Linked DNA regions of Homo sapiens: region 1 is linked to region 2. Evidence: fine-mapped expression QTL. A gene starts in region 2. The other region holds a variant in brackets. All regions are shown on one strand. Distances are between the middles of the regions. Region 1 overlaps CPNE5 (copine 5). Region 2 holds the start of CDKN1A (cyclin dependent kinase inhibitor 1A).

Evidence for each region. PIP is the estimated chance that this variant, and not a neighbour inherited with it, causes the effect.
Region 1: its variant is fine-mapped to the expression of CDKN1A in whole blood (TOPMed, PIP above 0.99).

Annotation. Positions count from the first base shown.
Region 1 is chr6:36,750,414-36,762,317 of GRCh38, reverse strand. CPNE5 (copine 5) reads left to right here. Exons shown (of 21, transcript NM_020939.2): 13 at 6,020-6,073; 14 at 9,223-9,284. Among named protein-coding and RNA genes, the nearest start is that of RAB44, 59 kb to the right of the region's middle. RefSeq lists enhancers at 2,078-3,046, 2,882-3,071, 5,757-6,956. The variant G/A (reference allele first, on the strand shown) is at 6,442.
Region 2 is chr6:36,673,590-36,682,743 of GRCh38, reverse strand. It overlaps CDKN1A (cyclin dependent kinase inhibitor 1A), which reads right to left and starts at 4,030. Exons shown (of 3, transcript NM_000389.5): 1 at 3,946-4,030. It overlaps PANDAR (promoter of CDKN1A antisense DNA damage activated RNA), which reads left to right and starts at 7,618. Exons shown (of 1, transcript NR_109836.1): 1 at 7,618-9,123. DINOL (damage induced long noncoding RNA) reads left to right here and starts at 4,185. Exons shown (of 1, transcript NR_144384.1): 1 at 4,185-5,135. It also overlaps the pseudogene LAP3P2. RefSeq lists enhancers at 39-158, 3,149-3,736, 3,748-3,937, 5,130-6,329, 6,309-6,378 and 1 more and silencers at 2,028-2,417, 3,988-4,217.

The DNA of each region.
Region 1 (11,904 bases), 78 kb before region 2:
GTGTGTGTGTGTGCATGTATGTGTGTGTGCGCGTGCGTGTGTGTGTATGCGTGTGCATGTGTGTGTTCTCCCTCTTTTTTTTTTTTTTTTGAGACAGGGCCTCACTCTGTTGCCCTGGTTCACTGCAGCCCCAATCTCCCAGGCTCAAGCGATCCTCCCACCTCAGCCTCCCGAGTAGCTGGGACCACAAGCACGCACCACCATGCCCAACTAATTTTTTAAATTTCTTGTAGAGACAGGATCTCGCTATGTTTCCCAGGCTGGTCTTGAGCTCCTGGGCTCAAGCGATCCTCCTGCCTTGGCCTCCCAAAGTGCTGGGATTATAGGCCTGAGCCACCGCGTTCTACTGTGTGCTCTCCCTTTTGCAATTCCCTCCCCACCTTCCAAATCTAGCTCAGGTCCTGCTCCTCTGTGAGGTCTTCCCAGCCACTCTTGTCCCCGTGCTTTCTTGTCTGAACTTCCACAGACATCATGGTTCATGCCAAACCCACTTAATGGCAGATACTTATAACCCAAATAACTGCTTGTGTTCGTATCCTGACTCTACCACTTACTAGCTACGTGACCTTGGCTAAGTCTCTGAACTACTCTGTGCCATGCAAACTGAGAATTAAATAAGTTAATGGAACAATGCCTGACCCAGAGGTCAGCACTGTCTTCTGTCACCATCTGCTGAGCACTGTGTGCCCAGAGGTTCACATTTTACAACCATCCTACCATCCTGGCACTGTCCTCATGCTAGCAGCCACTCAGCCAGCAAAGTTGAAGAGCTGGCCTTGAGTTCCATCACTGAATCCAAATCCCATGCTACCCCCACTCCTTTGCCCTGCATGTCGGTTCTGAGTGGGCAGGTCTTGTGTTCCAACTAGACTTTCCAAGGGCTGGTGAGGTGACAGCCCTGTCTGTTGCCTCCCCTCACTGGCCAGGGCACTGCCGGGCACACAGTAGGTGTGTTATACATTCGCATGCTGAATGAGATTGAACATGGCTATTGTGAAGATGGAGTGTGGATGAATTTATTTGAAAGGGCTCTAATACAGTACATTGCTTTGTTTTCTGCATCTGCAAAGAGAGAAGCTGTCTTTGTCCCCGCTCCCCCGCCCCACCCCAGTCAGAGAGAAGCAGATGCCACCATTCTCTGGCCTCCTTTGAGGAGATTTAGGGAGGTGAAGGGAAGGGGTCAGATCTCTCCGAGCTTGGCTTCTAAAGGTGCTTGACAGGCCCAGAAGGAGCTGTTTCTCTCGGGCTAAGAGCAGAAAGCATTCAATTGACTTGTTTTCTCAGTTGTTGATCCCTGCTTCTTTGTAATCAACAAGAGAAAGTGCCACACTGGGAGGCAGAAGCACTGTCTGCACACATCGGAAGGCCATCAGCTGAAAAAGGAGCACAGCTCTGGCAGTCCCAGGGGGAGGCTGGTTTGGGGCAGGAAGGCCTTGCTAGAATCAGAACTGCCTGAAAAGGGAACAGGCTCCAGCCAGTAAAGACCTGTGCCTCGGGCCCTGGCATTGCCCTAGTGTCAGGCTCCTATGTCCAGCTGTCTGCTGGCCCTTCCTGTAGCTCAGCCTTCCAAAACTGAACACATTAGCTAAACCTCCCACAGCACTCCCGTCCTCCTGGCGAGCCGGCTTCATCTCAAATATTCCCATCATGGGGGCTCAGGGCACCTTAGGGGTCATACTTAACTTCCCCATCCCTCATTCCATATCCAGTCCACGAGCAAACACTGCTCGCCTACCACCCATGTTTTCTGACATCGTTCCCCTCATCTCAGGCCACCACCACCAACTTCATCATCTCCCCCCTTATGGGGCTTTGCCACAGCCTCCTTTCTTCCTTCTGTCCTCTACACAGTAACCAGCGTACTCCACCAAAATAGTGATCTGATCACATCGCTCCCCTGCTTAAAATCTGTGTAGGGCATTCCACCCACCTCCTTAGCCTGGTTCGCACATGGGAGGTGGGAAGAGATACTGAAAGATGCTCCCACCGCAGCTGAGATCCACTGACCTACAGGGTGAAGTTCCAAGCTCTTTCATTTGGGATGCTGTTTCCCCAGCCAGCCACCCGCAATCTGTGTATGCGTGCTTTTTTTTTTTTTTTAAGATGGAGTCTCATTCTCACCCAGGCTGGAGTGCAGTGGCACAATCTCGGCTTACTGCAACCTCCACCTCTACTTCCAGGCTCTAGCTATCCTCCCACCTCAGTCTCCCAAGTAGCTGGGACCACAGGCACACACCACCACCCTGGCGATTTTTTTTTTTTTTTGCATTTTTGGTAGAGATGGGTTTTTGCCATGTTGCCCAGTCTGGCCTCCAACTCCTGAGCTCAGGTGATGCACCCGCCTCGGCCTTGCAAAGTGCTGGGATTTCAGGTGTGAGCCACCACGCCTGGCTGTGCATGTAAATAAAAACACACATCACATGCCTTTGGAGGCCCCTAGGAGCTGGCCCCTGCCCCTTCCCTCTGCCCATTCCCACATTCATCCCCGTCCTGCCACCTGAGGCTCTCTGAACCTCCGTGCTGTCTCAGCCTCCAGGGCTCGATTCATATGGGTGCCTCCACCTGAGACTCCCTCTTGTCTTCTCCTGGGTAGGAGCTATTGGTCCACGGAGCCTCCCTGTGGGTGTTCCTCCTCCAGGAAGTTGTGTCCACCTGCACACCCGCCCCACCCCAGAGCCTGGAGTGGACACTTGTCAGTGCTCCTGGGGTTCCTTCTGGCTATTTTCTGTTTTGTGACACTATTCAACCCCTCAAAGACCTTGAAGTCCTCAGGGTGGGGGTTGTGTTGCACTTACTGCTGCATCCCCAGAGCCAGCACAGCTCCTGGCCCCTAGGAGCCCCTCAGTGCCCCCACCCACCCCACCTAATGTGCGCAGGAGGGCAGATTCCAGACCTGTCCTGTCCCCGCCTGACCACCAAGAAGAAGGGAGGTGACTTAGTGGAGGGGCAGCTCCTCGGCTGGCCCCTAGGTGGCGCTGGCCCCCTGCATGGGATTCACCGTGGCGGGGCTGGAGAGGCTGAGGCTGGGAGCATGAAACCTCAGGGTAAACAGGGATCTGAGAACAGAACATTGCTTTAACATTAAAGCAGTTATATCAGAGAGTGGAAATGTGGAATACAGGCTAATTTAAAGATAACATAGAAAGCTTAGAAGAAACATGCTTGTGGCCAAATCTTTGGTTACTCTCAGGACTCCGGGTTCATTCTCCCCAGCTGGGAGGGCTATGTTGGAGCAAAAGTTTGAGATGCTGTCCATTCCGATAGTTCAACACCCTCAAGGGAGAGATTGGGAAACTGAGGCACAGTGCAGCACTGGGGCTGCCATTTTGCCCTCATCTTAACAGCTTGCCTACTTAAGCTGTTTTCCCATGAATGTGTCCGTGAGCACCTCACCATCTGGGTAACCCCGTGGAGGGGGCGTCCTCCAGTGCTAAAGAGGGTGCTCTGGTCTTCTCTCCCGGGCTCTCTCACCATCTCGCCCAGGCCCTCAGTTTCTACCTGCACAGCTTGCCAGACCTCCCACGTGAACTTCCCACCTGTGCCCCAAATCCAGCGCCTTCCTTCTGTGTCTACCTGGTCACCCCAACCCCTCCCTCTCTCGAACCTCTATAGCCACGCCCAGGGCCCAAGAGGCGTGGTCACTTCTTGACAGCGCTGTTCTCACCATAGCTCAGCACCTGTCCCAATACCCCCAAGTCCTCATGACCTCTCGCATGGACTTATGGTGGCAGTAATAATAGTAGTAGTAATTTTGAAAAATAGCAACTAAGGCTGGGTGCAGTGGCTCACGCCTGTAATCCCAACACTCTGGGAGACTGAGGCAGGAGGATTGCTTGAGCCCAAGAGTTTGAGACCAGCCAGAGTAACATAGCGAGATCCTATCTCTACCAAAAAAAAAAAAATAGCCAGACATGGTGGCAGCTACCTGGAAGGATTGCTTGAGCCCGGGAGGTTGAGGCCACAGTGAGCTATGACCCCACCACTGCACTCCAGCCTGGGCCATAGAGCAAGACCCCGTCTTAGAAAAAAGCAACAGACACGTATAGATAATACTTACTACATTCCAAACTGTTCTAGGCACTTTGCTTGCATTGGCCCATTTAATCCTCATACCTTTCCGGGAGGCAGGTACTTCTTATTCCCATTTTAGAGATGAGGAGACTGAGGCACATTGAGGTTAAGTAACCTGCCTAAGGTCACACAGCTATTATTAGGTGGCAGAACTAGGCAAATATTTCCTGGATGAGCCTCCTCCTCCCCTCACACTCACCTCCACCAGGCCCCAGTGTCCTAGAGCCTGCTCTGATTTTGTCTCCTACCAGCTTGGGGGTCATCAGAGTTCCCTGCAGGCCGCTGGGTGACATTCAGACATTTTTCACTGGGCATTCTAGGCTCTCCTCCAACCAGCCCAGCTTACTCTTCCACCCTGTGGTTCTGCCATCAAACTGGGCCTGGGTTCTATTCATTTCTCCCACAGAACCTCCTCTGACATCCATCTCTCCGTGCCCAGAGCCTTCCTGTGCCTCTAAGTCTGCCTTCAAGACTTCCTGCTCCAGAGAGGCTTTGCTGACACTCTCACCTAGAGTGGTCTTTCCTTCCTCTAACTCCCCTGACACTTCTGTGATCCCCCTTGTTCCATGGCCCTTGTCACTTTTTGCCCTGAGGACATATCTTCTCTCTCCAACATAGGTGATAGATGATTCCAGGGGAGAAGCAATATATGTCTCCACCCACCCCATAAATGTATGTCAAAGAGATCTGTTTGTATCTGTTATCAAGGTGGCACCAATGTATGCACCACTGGCCCGGGGGCAGGAAACCTGGTTTCTAATCCTGTCACTACCCAGATGGCTGTGTGACTTTAGGCAAATCACCTGGTGTCGCTGTGCTTTAGTTTCCTTCTTGCTGGAAGTAGATAGCAATACTCACCCAGACAGAAGAGACCACGGTAAAGATCAGCTGACGGCCTCTGTGGGAACAAAGACAGGGAAAGGGGAAATGAGTTCACCAGAAACCAACAGGCAGCACAGGAGGTATGAAAATTGCCTGGCTTTGTTTGATGGGACATTAGGGAAAAGTTGTGCCTAGACTTCCCTTATTAAAAACAAAACAAAGAAAAACTGGCGAGGGTCAAATGAGAATACAAATACAGTAAGTGCGGAAGTCTCGTGGGGGGCCTCAGGGCTGGGTGGCTCTCGTCACTTTGCCCAGTCTTGGCCTTGGCACTACTGGGATTTGGGACTGCATCACTCCCTGCCGTGGGAGGCTGTCTTGTGTACTGTAGGATGTTTAGCAGCATGCCTGGCCTCTACTCACCCCCTCAGTTGTGGAAACCAAAACCGTCTCCAGATGTTACCAAACGTTCCTGGGGGTAAAATCGCCCCTGGTTGAGACCGCTGAGTTAGCCACCAACAAGCCTTCTCTGAGCACCTACTCTGAGCCTAGCCCCATGATTTATCTGACACAGGTCTGGTTTGGAAGTTAAAGCTTACACTCAAAGAATAGCTAAAGAGGTTCTTGCTGCCAAGTAAGAGGGATGGTGATGGAGAGGGGAGCCTCAGAGGCCCTGGGCAGCCCTTGGGCTGGGTCCCAAAGGAGGAACAGGGGAGATTGGAATTGGCTGAGAGAGGAAGGGGGTGCATTTTTGGTGAGGGGAGCAGCCTCAACCAACACAAGGGACAGGTACAGATAGGGCCGCTTTGCAACATCAAGACTTCTTTGGCTATACTGGGTGGAGGGTGCGTGTGTTCCGGGGAACAGTGGGAGAGAAGGTTAAATAAATATTCCCGGTTGATCGTGGGACCCTGGGTCTGATGGGAGAACCCAGTTGTGTAACCCAGACTCAATACCAGTCTCCCACAAATCCTCCTTAAACCCTTCTCCCCTGGCCCCGTGGTCTTCACACCCCACACTCTAATGGGGCTGGGCTTGGACCACACCCATGGGTGGTTGGAAGCCCTCAAGACTCACCCTGACTGCCTGGAAGCATGCCTTACCTGGTAACTGGTTTTTCCTGCAGGTGGTAAACCCGAAAAAGAAAATGAAGAAAAAGAAATACGTGAATTCTGGCACAGTGAGTAGCCACCCCGGTCTCTGCAGCCGGGTGTAGACATTCTGAGCCCCAAGCTAGGTCTGGTATCAGGGAGGCCCGTGCGTCTGTGTGTGTGCAGGGGCTGAGCGTGGGAATCAGACATCCAAGAGAGATGGGGTGGGGAGGGGTGGGGCAGATGGAGCAACAGCCAGGGGAGAGAGTTGACTTGCAGACCACACAACAGGCGCTGGCTGTATCTAGCATGAGGAATCGCAGAGACATCCACGGGACTTCCTGCAGGAAGGAAGAGGAAGAGAAGTCGTATTTATTGGGCCCCTACCCTGGGAAATTCCCCACGTTGGTGCTTTTCACAGGTTGTTGCCCTGAGAGGCAGATATTATCATCCCCTA[G/A]TCATGAAAGAGGAAACCAAGGCTGCAAGCAGGAAAGTGACTCAGCCAAGGTCACACAGCTAGAAAGTGGTAGAGATGGGACTCAACATGACATCTCACTCCAGAGCTGGCAGCTGCTACGGGCGCTGCCCCTGCTTAACCGTGACCTTCCTGGGATGACACGCCGGCCTAGTGGCTTCTCGGGGCTGGTCTTGAGGACATTCATACGCTTCTTCAGCAAATACTTACTGAGTGCTACTGTGTGCCAGGCACTATTCTAGGCACATCAGATACAGCTGGAAACAAGACAGACCCAAATCCCTGGTGCTTATATTCTAGTGGGAGGAGACAGAGAAAAAAAAAAAACACACACACACACACACACATGCCTGTGTGTGTCAGTTGATTATGAGAGCTATGGAAAAAGTATAAAGGGTAAAGGGACAGGCAATGGAGGAAGTATTGAGGATACTGGGGAAAGGGAATTCCAGCATTCCTGCTGTAGAGAACAGCACATGCAAAGGCCCTGAGGTGGAGCTCACAGTGCATTTCTAGAACAAGCCACTTTCTCTGCAGTGCAAACACACCCAGATTCATCCTCTCTGTGTTCCTTCCTCACTCTAGAGGCCCATGGCTAGTGCAGCCAAGCCTGGTCATTTGAGTCAGGCAGACTGTATCTCCAGACCTAGAAGAGGTTTTCAGGAGCTCTGGGGTTCCTCTGAGAAGCCTCATTTTCTCCGTCTGTAAAGTAGGACTAATAAATCATCCCCACCTTGCCACTGCACAGGGCAGCTGTGACAGACACATGGGAGATGCAGGCTTGTGAACTGTAAAATTACTCTGCTCATTCAAAGGGGACTGAACACCACTTCTTTGATTGTAACTGCTTCACAGACTGGGGCTTGGAGTCATATTTCCTTTGTCCAAGGCTGCGGTGTTTCTTAGTGGAGAGGCTGTCAGCATTTGGGCAGGAAAATTCTTCATCTCACAGGATGTTTAGCACCCCTGGCTGCTGCCCATAGCTACCAGTAGAGCCCCAGTCATTATGAGAACCCCCAAAATTCTCCCACGCCTTCCTAAATTCCCCTAGGGAAGACAGCACCTTCCCCAGCTGGGAATAAAAAGGTTCAAAAACCACTGATCTCATCCAGCCTTCTTACTTTAGAGACGAAGAAACTGTGGCCTAGAGAGGGCATGCGATTTGTCCCAGGTCACACAGTGAGCTGGAGACAGAGCGGGCCTAGGCCCAGGTCTCTTGACTTTCCTTTTACTCCAGCATTTCCCCATCTTCATCGCGAAAAATCACCCGGGATGCAGAAAGCTTGCTGAAATACAGACGCCCAGGCCAGTTCCCTGGGATTCCACTTTAGGAGGCCCAGGAATCTGTGTTTAGTGCTTTTCATCCCTTACTTATGGTGTGCAGAATCCCCTGGGGATCTTGTGAAAATGCCAAGAATCTGCATTTCTGCATTTCTACCTGGCATCGAGGTGATGCTGACGCTCTGGTCTAGGGACACTACCCTTTGAATAGGGGAAAGTCTGCTTTCACCCTGCGAGCCCCTGGGTGAACCCATATGGTCAGGGCAGTTAGGGCATTGCTTCATCCTGGGGGTTGGAATGGGGAGTGGTCAACTGTGTCTGCAGATTAGACTTACGTGAAGAGCTAAAAAAAAAAAAAAAAAAGAAGATCTCTGAAACATTCATGTAGCCCCGGAAACTCGGCTATAATGGGTCTGGGCTGCAGGATGATCTAAGAGCCCCCAGGGCATCTCATGGTCATCAGTCAGGGTTGAAGCCACTGCCGTGGTTCCTAGTAAGTCTGAGCTGCCACACTTGGAAGGAGGCCTGTGGTTCATCCAGGTGCCTAATACCTTAACCACAATAGCTGGGGGTCTTACTGCCAAGTAAGGGTGGTGCTCTCACCTGGCCCTCCCAATGAGCCTGTAAAAACAGCTGAATCTTCATGAATAGGGGGCTCCCAAACTACCAGAGAGGAGTTCGTTCTCTTACACAGGTGAAAGGTCCTCTGCCCTAATCTTGTCTCATATAATTGGCCTAGGATGCCAGGCTTTCATTTGTCTCCTTGATTCTAAATTGTTATGATAATGAGCTGCCAGGTAGCTGCCTGTCTTGGCAAAGCCAAAGCTAACTTTGCCAGGGCATAGGTTAAAAGGCCTCTGCTTGGGGGAGGGGGCCTGGGGTAGTCAGTTACCTCTGGGGAAAAGGATGGGCTACTTATGAGGCAGGATCTTGGGTCTGAGAGGGATGAGATGGGACCAGTAAGATTTAAGATAAGCACAGTCCAAAGAGGCACATTTCAGGACTAATAGCTCTAGGCACATGGAAGCCTGAAGCTGGTCGGCATTGGCAGGTTGTTAGGCCTGTGCCAGGAGGGCCCCCTTGTCCTCCACACCCCACCCTAGGTCCCTGGGGCTGAAGAGCCAGTGCCCACTTAGAGGAAACTAACACCCTTGGCTTGGACCCCGGTTCCACTGACACAGATGGGACCCTTCCGTCAAGGTCAAGAGTGCAGGCTCTGAAGTCAGACACACCCTGGTTTCAGATCCCTTCTCTGCCCTGGCAGTGTCCTTGGGCACATTGCACCACCTCTTTGGGTTTCAGTTTCCTTGGCTATAAAGTGGGGATAATAATAGTACTTCATGGGGTGGTGTGGGCAGTGCATGCAGTCATGCATGCAAAACTGGCACATGCCGAGTGTTCTGTCAATGTCAGCTCTCGAATCATAACCCATCTCCCCTGACCCCAGGCTCCCCACTGACCAAGCTCCCTTTTGTTTTGAAGGTCACCCTGCTTTCCTTTGCTGTGGAGTCAGAGTGCACCTTCCTTGACTACATCAAAGGAGGGTGAGAAGAGATACAGCCAATTTCATGGGCCTTGGGGAGAGGGAAAGGGCCCCACACACCGACAGGACCGGCTCTGGCCCCACCCTGGCCTCTTCAAAGCCCTGGTTGAAGGCTGTGGTGCTGGGCTCTGAGCAAACCCTGGTGTTTGGGCTGAGACAACTCATCCAGAGCCCTGCACATCCCCAGATCCCAAGCAGCTTGGAGGGAACTCCTGAGCCAAGGAGGCTGGCCTGGGTCATGTCAGGTCTCCATGCAGAGACAGGACCTGGAGCTGGTAGGGACTCCGTGACAGAAAGCCAAGGGCTTGGGGATGTAGAAAGAACCCTGCAATAGGAGTCAGGAGGCCCAGGCTCTAGGCCTCTCTTTGCCATTAATTTGCTGGGTTCCTTTGGGTGAGTCATTTTTCCTCTCAGGGTATCAGTTTCCTCCTCTGTACACAAAGAGAACGGAATAGGTAAGTGTTAAGGTTCCTTACAGCTCTGAGCTTCTGACACCTCTGATCTGTCTGGTTGGGGGAGGGGGACAGTGATTAACCTGCTCACTGTTATTAGGGCCCTGTAAGGGCAGCGGGATTGGGGATAAGCCAGGGATTGGTCCTGGGGCCAGCAGGTGGTCAAACATGAGTTTAAGGAGCAGAAAGAACCACCAGGCACAGTGTCTAGGCCCAGACAGATGGGGGAGCCAGGAGGCCCCAGCCAGCAGCTCACGGAAAGAGCCTGGCTCTAAGGGTAGAGCCTGCCCAGCATGCTGCCTGCCAGGACAGGTGCCAGGTCAGGGCGTGGGCAGCCAAGAGCCCGCAGGTGAGTGACTGCACCTGTCTGGAAAGGAGACAGGCAGGAGCAACTGCCAAAGGCTCATCCCAGCCAAGTGGACCCTTGGCTGCCTGGTTCTCCAGGGCAGAGGGAGAAGTCAGGTCCTGGGAAGCCACACTCACTTTCCCATGACAACACTCCCTGCTGCCTTGAGCTTGCAGTCTCAAGGCTGCAAGCTCTCCTCCTACCCACTGAGCACACACCCTGCCTCCAGTCACTCAGGAGCTCCTCTGCTCTTACCTGCCCCTCCTCTGGGCTGACTCCAGACCCCGCCTTTGCACTCTTCCCCCATCAAAATTGCTTCCCTCTCAATCCCATTAATCAGCCACCCCTTACAGTCCATAGCACCTGGTAACTCTCAAACACCCCTCATCCTGTTTATTTTTATTTATGTTTATTTTATTTTATTTTATTTTATTTATTTTTTGAGACAGAGTCTCGCTCTGTCACTCAGGCTGGAGTGCAGTGGCACAATCTCGGCTTACTGCAACCTCCGCCTCCTGGGTTCAAGCAATTCTCCTGCCTCAGCCTATCAAGTAGAGTAGCTGGGGCTACAGGCATGCGCCACCACCCCCAGCTAATTTTTGTATTTTTAGTAGAGACGGGCTTTCACCATTTTGGCCAGGCTGGTCTCGAACTCCTGACCTCAGGTGATTCGCCTGCCTCGGCCTCCCAAAGTGCTGGGATTACAGGCATGAGCCACCACACCCAGTCCATCCTATTTATTTTTTTCATTTGCATAGTACCCCCAACTTACAGAACACAGTGGGCAGGATCAGAACAGTTATCCCCATTTTACAGAGCTTGCCTGAAGCCACACGCCTAGATGGTGGCAGGGTTCCTTCTCCCATAACATGCTGCCTTTCATTCTATAGTAATGAATCAGTCTAGCCTGCCTGACTTGCAGTTAGCGGGTGGGGTGGGATGAAGATGGAGACTGATGAGTTAAAGGGCTGGATGCTGTGAGGTTTCATCGAAAAGGAGCCCTCAGAGGCTGAGCTAAGCTGGTGCCACCCATACTGGGCAGGTTATAGCCCCAGAGCCAGCCCTCTCTTTAAACTCTCTGGAGAGCCTGAGTGAGGGAGCTGGCTCCAGGGACTGAGAGCCTGGCATGCATGCCCAGGCAGGAAGCTGATGTCTAGGGATCCTCTCCTCCCTGGCCTCCCTCACCTGCCCACCTGGACCCAGGAGGAAGGGTATGGGTACTTTGGCCCCACTGTCAGAGGAGGAGCTGGTTGCTCAGCAGCCTGTGTTCTACCCTTAGGCAGGAGACACTAGGCTGCTGCGAGTAATTTTCCCACAAGAGGATCTGCTTTCCAATTGCTTCCTTTCCCAAGGCTTTTCAGAACCCAGGGCAGGGGAGGACTAGTTAGAGCAAGGCCTGCCTTTCCCCTCACCCTGTATTTGGAAGAGCCAGTCCAACAGTGTCCCTCCAGTATAGTCCCACAGGCCAGAATCATCTTCCCAAGAGTGGCCCTGGGAGCGGGACTTTCACCCTCCAAATGTCTCCCTACCTCTAACAAAGACATGCGTTCTACATTCCACACTGAAGCGGGGGTGACAACAAACAGCAGATGAGTATGGTAGGTCAACTGCTGTAACACATAATTCCCTAACCTCAAGCCTTCATACCAATAAAGGTCTGTTTTTCATCTGTGGGATGGCAGGGTTGGGTGGGGAGATGATCCACGCAGTCATTCAGGGACCCAGGTTCTTGCTAGCTTTGCGGCTCCTTCTATCCTACTGCCTGGAATCCTCTGGATGCTCTGCCCCCAGCCAGCAGAAGAGGAGAAAGAGGTGGGGATGAC
Region 2 (9,154 bases):
CCCTGGCACCTACCTGCCTGCTCTGGCTTGACTCCAGGGCTGAGTGACTGCACGACCTTGGCAGCAACTGGATTTTCCTAGGGACAAGTCCCAACTTGCAGTTTCTGGGGGTGAAAGCTCTGCTGAGTCCTCATGAGGCAGGAAGCCCGGGACACATGCCACATCTGCTCCACCCCACCTCACCCCACTGCTTGTGATCAGTGGAGCCCACAGTTTCACGTCCCAGCTGGTTGGGAGAGGAGGCTCTTGGTAACTTCACACCAAGTTTAAAGGGCAGGAGATGGAAGAGATATGAGACTTGCCCCTGAGTCATACAGCTAAAAAGGCCAAAGGCCACTGCCCCATAAAGGGGTCACCCAGTACAGTGGACAGAGCCCTCAAATAACCTCTATCCACCCTCTGCTAGGCATGAGTTGGGATTTATTTATATATTTTTATGTTTGGGGGCTGTTCTAAGCAGTTTAAAAATATCAATCCTCCTAAAAAGTGGATATCTATTAGCTCCCTTTTTACAGAAGAGGCAACCAAGGCTCAGATAAGTTAAGTAACTTGCCTAACATCACACAGTTCATAAGTGGCACAGCCAGGATCTGAACCCAGGCCTGTTTGCCCTGAGTCCTGTGCTGTAGTATTGAACCCCACTCCCTCTCTAATTTTGAGGTTTCTTAACCAGAGAGGCCCATCACAATCACTTGGGGAGGCCAGGGGCAGTGGCTTATGCCTGTAATCCTAATACTCTGGGAGGCAGAGGTGGGAGAATCATTTGAGCCCAAGGGTCCAAGACTAGCCTGGGCAACTAGCTGAGACCCTGTCTCTACTAAAAATAAAAATAAATAAAAATTAGCTGGGTGGTTGGGTGCAGTGTCTCACACCTGTAATCCCAGCACTTTGGGAGGCCGAGGAGGGCGGAGCACGAGGTCAGGAGATTGAGACCATCCTGGCTAACACGGTGAAACCCCGTCTCTACTAAAAATACAAAAAAAAATTAGCCGGGCATGATGGCAGCACCTGTAGTCCCAGCTACTCGGGAGGCTGAGGCAGGAGAATGGCGTGAACCCGGGAGGCGGAGCTTGCAGTGAGCCGAGATCACGCCACTGCACTCCAGCCTGGGTGACAGAGCGAGACCGCATCTCAAAAAAAAAAAAAAAAAAAAAAAAATCTGGGCATGGGGGCGGGGGGATCACGCCTGTGGTCCCGGTTACTTGGGAGGCTGAAACAGGAGGACTACTTGAGTCCAGGATGGTGCCATTGCACTCCAGCCTGGGTGACAGAGTGCAACTCTGTCGAAAGAAAAGAAAGAAAGAGAGAAAGAGAAAGAAAGAGAGAAAGAGAAAGGAAGAAAGAAAGAAAGAAAGAAAGAAAGAAAGAAAGAAAGAAAGAAAAGAAAGAAAAAGAAAGAAAGAAAGAAAAAGAAAGAAAGAAAGAAAGAAAGAAAGAAAGAAAGAAAGAAAGAAAGAAAGAAAAAAAGAAAGAAAGAAAAGCACCTAGGGAGTTTTTTCAAAATATAGATTGCTGAGGCCCTGCCTCCCGAGACCAACTTAATCCAGATTGAAGATTCAAGCAAGTGTTTGGCACAATTCCTCAGATGGGCACTCTTGGGTTGCCAGCCAAGCGGAGACACACTGGTATGTTTGAAATGGACATTCTGGGTCTCAATACATCATAGGCACAAGGAGGAGGCGCCCGCCTAGGGCTTCATCAAGGTGCTGGATATTCCCTGGCTCTCGGGAGTTCAAGACAGGACTAGGATCTAGGCAGGCACCCTCTCCTCTTCTACCACCCCTCCTTCTCTTATGGCTCTCATAGGCCTCTCCTCCCCCATCAAAATCTGCTCTCATGCTCATAATAACTTTCAGCCCAAAGAAAACTCAGAAACGCAAACCCTTGTTTTAGAAACAATTAAAAATAGCCTCCTTTATTGGCCTTCCTGCCTTAGACTTCAGCCATATTTTAATTTCCAGTAAGAGCTCAGTGAATACTGTTGAACCTAAGGAGTGCTCCTTTGAAGGGGTGGTAATGGCATAGGGGTTGATCTCGGATGAGCCCAGGAGTAGCCGCGGCGGTTCGCGCCGGCCAGCCCCACTCCGCGGGAAAGCCTGTGTGCTATTCCCGCCAGGGCCGGGAGGGGGCGCCGGCCTCCAGGAAATCACGCGCGGAGTGGGAGGTGCGTGGGCAGAGCCTCGGACCGCTGGAGGGAGTAGTGATGAGTCAGTTTCCTGCAAGGCGCTGCTCGCCCGCCAAAACTGCTTCCACTCCGGCTGCGCGTCACCCTGGGGTGGGGAGGGGGAGAATGGGAGGGGACCGGGGGGCCGCGAACACGTCACGCTGAGCCGGCCAGGCTTCCGAAACTCCCGCCGCTGTTGGGAAACCGCGCGCTCTTGTGCCGTCTCTGACACAGACACACACACACACACACACACACACACACACACACACGCCCGCGCAGACACGCACGCGCGCGCGCGCCGGGAGCCGGCCCCTCCACCTTATCTCCACGCCCAAAGCACGGGATGAGTCAGATCCCTGGAAAATAAAAATAGACGGGAGCAACGAAAACAAAACCGCTCGCAAGTCCTCCCAGAAACGCGACGTGGAGGGAGGCAAGGAGAGGGGAAGCTGCCTGGGCGCCCCAAGTTCCTAACCCAGCTCCAAGATGCTTTTCCTCACGAAGAGGGCGCAAGTGTCCCCCAGGGGTTTGGGACGGAGAGGACGCGCTGTGGTCCGCGCCAGGCGGCGGCGCCCCAGGGGGCGACTCGCCCCCCTGCTCCGCTCAGCCCTGTAGCTTTCGGAGAGGGAATCTGGGCTAGGTCGGGAAGCCCTGAGCCCCCGAGGCAGCTGATAGAGGCCCTGAGCAGCGTCGTGCCCCCCAGACCCCCCACCCCTCAAAGACATGAACCCTCCCCGCCTCCCATCCAGGCGTGGGCTCCGCTCCCGCCCCGGAGTCCAGCGCCCCGACCCGAGGACAGGCTGGGCCGCGATTCTCCCGGCCGCGGTGGGAAAGAGGTAGAGGAGACCCTTGCCCTTCCCCGACTGACAGGCTGGTTAGAGCCCGCCCAGAGCAGGGCCGTGACTCCCCGACCCCTACAGCGCGCCGCGGAGCGGGGACCCGACGCGGTGTCCCGGACCTCCAGTGCCCGGCTTCCTTGGGAACAAACTGTTCCAGCCAAATAGGTCACTGTGCCGATGGGAGGACGGAGACCGCGAAGGGGCAGGGGAGAGGGCTTCTGGAGTCCCGCTGTACCCCATCCCGGGCGGGGTTCTGACCTCATACAGTCCGTTCCCTGGGGTCTCCTTGTCACAGTGAGTCACCTCCTCGCTAGTCCTTAGGGGACGGGTCCTGGCACATTCCCAAGGGCCAGGAAACAGCCCGCGCTGACCTCAGCGCTCAGCCAGGTGGTGGACACAGTGGCGTAAAGGACCTGAACCTGGGACCTGGGCCAGGGCGGCGCAGATTGGATCCCAGAGCCACCCGGGACCGATCCTAGACGAACTTACTCCACTCCGCTTTCCTCGCCCTTCCTGGGCCCCTCCAGGGACACGGACTTCATCCCCACGCCGCGAGCAAACTGCGCCTGGGGCCTGGAGCCAACCGCAGCCAAAGGCGAGCTCCCAGAACGGTCCCGTCCACGCCCTCCCTCGCCCCAGCTGGGTTTCCAGGGGCGGGGAGCGTGACCAGGGATTCCTGTACTTGTAATCCCGCTCTCCGCCCCGGGGTCTCCGGCACATCCCGACTCTCGTCACCCGCGCACTTAGAGACACCGTGTGCGCAAGCCGAGCGCGCACCGACCCACGCCCGTCATTCACCTGCCGCAGAAACACCTGTGAACGCAGCACACACCCGCGAACACGCATCCTCGCGGACACGCAGGGACACACGCGGGCACGCTTGGCTCGGCTCTGGGCCGCCGGCCCGGGGTCCCCTGTTGTCTGCCGCCGCTCTCTCACCTCCTCTGAGTGCCTCGGTGCCTCGGCGAATCCGCGCCCAGCTCCGGCTCCACAAGGAACTGACTTCGGCAGCTGCTCACACCTCAGCTGGCGCAGCTCAGCGCGGCCCTGATATACAACCGCCCCGCCCGGGCCCGCCTCAAGGAGGCGGGACCCGCGCTCGGCCCACCGCGCCGCCCGGGACCGCCCTCCCCGGGGCCCAGGCTCCTGGCTGCCCAGCGCCGAGCCAGCTGAGCCTGGCCGAGTTCCAGCAGGCCAGCCGGTCCCGGAACCTCGCGTGCTGCAGGAGGGCACTTCCCTCCTCCCCCAGTCCCTCGCCTGCGTTGGTGCGCTGGACACATTTCCCCACGAAGTGAGCCACAAATCTGGCTTTTTTTACTTGGAGAATGAGTTGGCACTCTCCAGGAGGACACAGCACTGTTAGAATGAGCCCCCTTTCTGGCTCACCGCTGACCCACTCTGGCAGGCAAGGATTTACCCAATGCAGCTGAAAAGATCAGGAGGATGACATTAATACATAAAAATTCATAAATTATAAAAACGATGCACCTCTCTGCAATTTCCAGAAAAGCCCCACAATATCACCTCTATTCCCACTGATCCCTCACTAGGTCACCTCTCCCAGAAGCACCTGGAGCACCTAGACACCCCAACAAAGCATCTTGAGGCCAGAATGATTTTTCAGTCCCGTTTATTTCACAGATGAGGAAATTGAGGTCCACTGAACTTAAGTATACAAAGTTGTTGATTGTCACATGCTTCCGGGAAGGAGGGAATTGGAGAGACTACCAAAAAAGGGCAACCTGATCTCCAGGGAAACAGAAGAATTGGACATTGAACCAATCTCCCTACACCCTACACTCACCTGAACAGAAGAAATCCCTGTGGTTGCAGCAGCTTTGTTGGCCAGGAAGGGGAGGATTTGACGAGTGAGTTGTCTGTCTCCTGAATACTCCCCACATAGCCCGTATACACTGCTGGGGAAACTGGGGCTCAGAGAAGTCTGGTGACCTAACTCAGATCATGCAGCAAAGAAATGACTATAGTTGGAACACAGGACTTTTGCCTCCTGCCCGGGGCTCTCTGCTTGTCATCCTTTATTTCTGTGGCTCCAAAATGACAAAAATGCCAAATAACCCTCATTTGCAGATGGTTTATGGAGATGACATAAATAAAGGACAATTCTGGAAGTGTCTACTGGTTCTTCTGACAGACACAGAAATGAGTGATGTGTCTATCCGCTCCCATCTACCTCACACCCCTGACCTCCCCTGGACTTCACCTTTGCCTCCTTTCTGTGCCTGAAACATTTGCAGTTTTGCTTTTAAAAAATTGCAGAGGATGGATTGTTCATCTGAACAGAAATCCCACTAAAAAACAGAACCCAGGCTTGGAGCAGCTACAATTACTGACATCTCAGGCTGCTCAGAGTCTGGAAATCTCTGCCCAGACATGCCCAGTCTTCTTCCTCTAACGCAGCTGACCTCGGGGAGGACAGGCTTCTTTCTCCTCTGCTGTGGGGATGGGAGCCCAGGTAGGGGTGGGAGGACACAGTAGCAGACCCCCTTGGCCTGCCTCGCCCTGGAGTCAGGCCAGGATTGTGGCTAAACCCCAGAAAGGCCACGGCACAGCCTCAGGACCCCACTCTAAGCCCCACTGCTGTCTGCACCTTCGCTCCTATACATCCAAACCATCCAAAGGGCTGGTTGTCAAATGTCCAGCAGAGGACAGGCACCTTCTCCCACTGCCTTGAAGCCCCTCTGCTTTCAGGCATTTCAAATAGACTAGACATTGTCTGTCTGTTTACTTTGGGGAGAAAATTTTTTTTAATAAAGGCTTGTAATGAATTATTTAAATTTTTGTGGTACTGAGCTTCACAATGAAATAATTCTTTTTGTTGTTGTTTTTGGGAAAGAATTTTTTTTATAACTTCTAGCTCACCACCACCACGACATTCAATATTTCTTAAGTACCTACTAAGTGTCTAGTACTATTCAGTGCTTTAAAAAAAAAAGTTTGCAACCATGCACTTGAATGTGTACCCAGACACACTCTAAGGGAGGACTTCTGCCCTGAAAAAGGCAAGGGAGCAGGCTGTTAAAAGTCACACACAGAATCTGACTCCCAGCACACACTCACACAAGCACACATGCATCAGATCCCAGCCCTGTCGCAAGGATCTGCTGGCAGATCACATACCCTGTTCAGAGTAACAGGCTAAGGTTTACCTGGGGTCTTTAGAGGTCTCCTGTCTCCTACCATCCCCTTCCTCACCTGAAAACAGGCAGCCCAAGGACAAAATAGCCACCAGCCTCTTCTATGCCAGAGCTCAACATGTTGGGACATGTTCCTGACGGCCAGAAAGCCAATCAGAGCCACAGCCTGCTGCCCAAGCATGTTCCTGGGAAGCAGGCAGCATAGGGATGGAGGGAGGCTCAGCCTGGGGGACAAGAGTGCCCAGTCCAGCCCCCTCCCCAGAGTGCGGTGGAGCAGCATGGGGTAGGGGAATGGTGAAAGGTGGAAAGCCCAAGCCTGAAGAAGGAGGATGTGAGGAAGGCTCAGTGGTGGCTGCAGAAGCTGCCTAGGAAGGGAGAGGAAGTGCTGGGAACAATGTCACCATTTCTCAGAAAGAGACTGGGGAGTCCCAAATAGGGGCAGTCAGCTTTCAGAGGAATTCACCTTCACACAGGCTCCCAAGAAGTGAGACCCCAGAGAAGAGGCGGAACAAAGATAGAACATTATTGAGCAGAGGCAGCCCTGGCTTTTTGTTTTCATTTTGTTTTTTTGTTTTGTTTTGTTTTTTGAGACAAAGTCAGCAGTGGCACAATCTCAGCTCACTGCAGTCTCCGCCTCCCAGGTTCAAGCAATTCTGCCTCAGCCTCCCGAGTAGCTGGGATTACAGGCATGCACCACCATGCCCAGCTAATATTTGTATTTTTTTTTTTGCACAAAAAGTTGGATTTATTGTTTCTGACAAGTGGTTAGTAATTTTCAGTTTGCTCATGTTCCTAGCATCACAAATCTGAAGTACAATTTTGCTTCTCAATTAAAAATATATACTGGCCGGGCGTGGTGGCTTACGCCTGTAATCCCAGCACTTTGGGAGGCCGAGGCGGGCAGATCACAGGGTCAGGAGTTTTGAGACCAGCCTGGCCAATATGGTGAAACCCCGTCTCCATTAAAAATACAAAAATCAGCCGGGCATGGTGGTGGGCACCTGTAGTCCCAGGTATTCAGGTGGCTGAGGTGGGAGAATCGCTTGAACCTAGGAGGCGGAGGTTGCAGTGAGCTGAGATCATGCCACCTGCACTCCAGCCTGGGTGACAGAGTGAGACTCCGTCTCAAAAAAAAAATATATAAATCTTTGTGTAAAATGAAAAAAAAATCAAGGCATAAAAATTTCATTGTGTTCTACATTTTTAAATATAAATTGCCTCCTTTAAAATATTTTCATCCATTCATTCAAAAACCTTTTAACTTCAACTGTCCAATTTAAGATAGAGTGAAGACATTTTTGAGTATCTGAACTAAGCATTGTCTTGACTGAAACGAAGTAAGAACTCTATGAGAGTCCTTGTGGGCCTCCCGGTCATGCCTTTCCATAGATAGGGAACCTCATCTTTGTTGGTCATCACACCTGCTATGTCTAAATGTGCCCACTTAGGATGAGTCACGAATTCTTTCAGGAATGCCGCAGATGTACATGCTCCCGCAGATCTATATTTTCCAATGTTGTTAACATCAGCCAGCTGGCAATCTACAACCTGTCTTGTACAATGTTTGAAGAGAGGCATCCTCCAGACACGGTCCCCTGTTTCAATGCTGGCCTCGAAGAGCTTGTTCCAGAGCCAGGATGAATTGGTAAAGACCCCAGTGGCACCTGACCCCAAAGCTACATCTATGACACCTGTTAAGGTGGTGGCATTGAGGATGACCTTCGGGTTAAATGTGTGCACGTAACAGAGCGCATCAGCCAGTATGAGCCTCCCCTCAGCATCAGTGTTACCAACCTGGATGGTCTTCCTGTTCCTGGCTCTAACAACATCCCCCAGCTTGTTGGCCTTGCCGCTGGGCATGTTTTCACAGAGGGGCCAGACCTATAATATTAATGGGCAAACTGAGATTTGCAGCAGACACAATGGCTGAGCATATAGTTGTAGCTCCTCCCATGTCGGCCCTCATGAGGTCCATATTTGCAGAAGCCTTGATGGAGATACCACCACTGTCAAAGGTAATTCCTTTCCCAACAAACAAGGGGTGGTTTGTCTGCATTGGGGCTGCCTATGTAGTGAATTTCCAAGAAGACTGAGGGCTCGTCAGATCCTTTGGCCACACTGAGGAATGATCCCATTGCCTGTTCCTCAATCCAAGACCTGGGTCTGATATGAAACTCGGTTTACTACTAGCGCTTTTGAGATTCTTCTCAATAATTTCGGCAAATCTGGTTGGCATCATCTCGCTGGCTGGCGTCTCCATCATGCCAAGTTCTGCCCAGAAGCAAACAGGACTCCTTTCTGCCAGGCCTCCTGATCCCCAGTTCCATAGAGCTTCACCGACATAGCCATCTTCTTTTTTTGCTTTAGGTCATCGTATTCATAGAGACCAAGCACCGCGCCCTCCTCAGCAGCCTGAGCATCTCTACAGGGATCCACCTCCACGGAAGAGAGCTCCAGGTCTTGAATCTGCCTGCATCCTGCTGCAACAGCAGCTCTGATGTTTTCTTTGCCTTCCTGCCAGTTTTCCTGTTCGTCGATTCTGGCTGCCTTTTTGCCGAGGCCAACTAGCACCACGCTGGGGAAGTCCTGATGCAGACCATAAAAGTTTCGAGTCTTGCCTGCCTTCAGAGGTGGTCCAGATATGTTCAAAGTCTCTCTCAGCTTTCCAGCTATCAATTTATCAAGATTCTCTCCTGCACTTGTGAACTGTGGCACATCATCTTCTTTTTCTTTGGAATAGATTCCTAAAACAAGGCCCTTCGTCATGTCTGCAGCGGAGAGACCCCGGCTCCCGAAACATCTCACGGCCAGACGTCAGACGATGACTCGCCCCACCCAATGTTTGTATTTTAGTAGAGAGAGGGTTTCTCTATGTTGGTCAGGCTGGTCTCAAACCTCGACCTCAGTTGATCTGTCTGCCTCGGTCTCCCAAAGTGCTGAGATTACAGGCGTGAGCCACTGCGCCCAGCCTATTTTTATTTTTTATATATTTT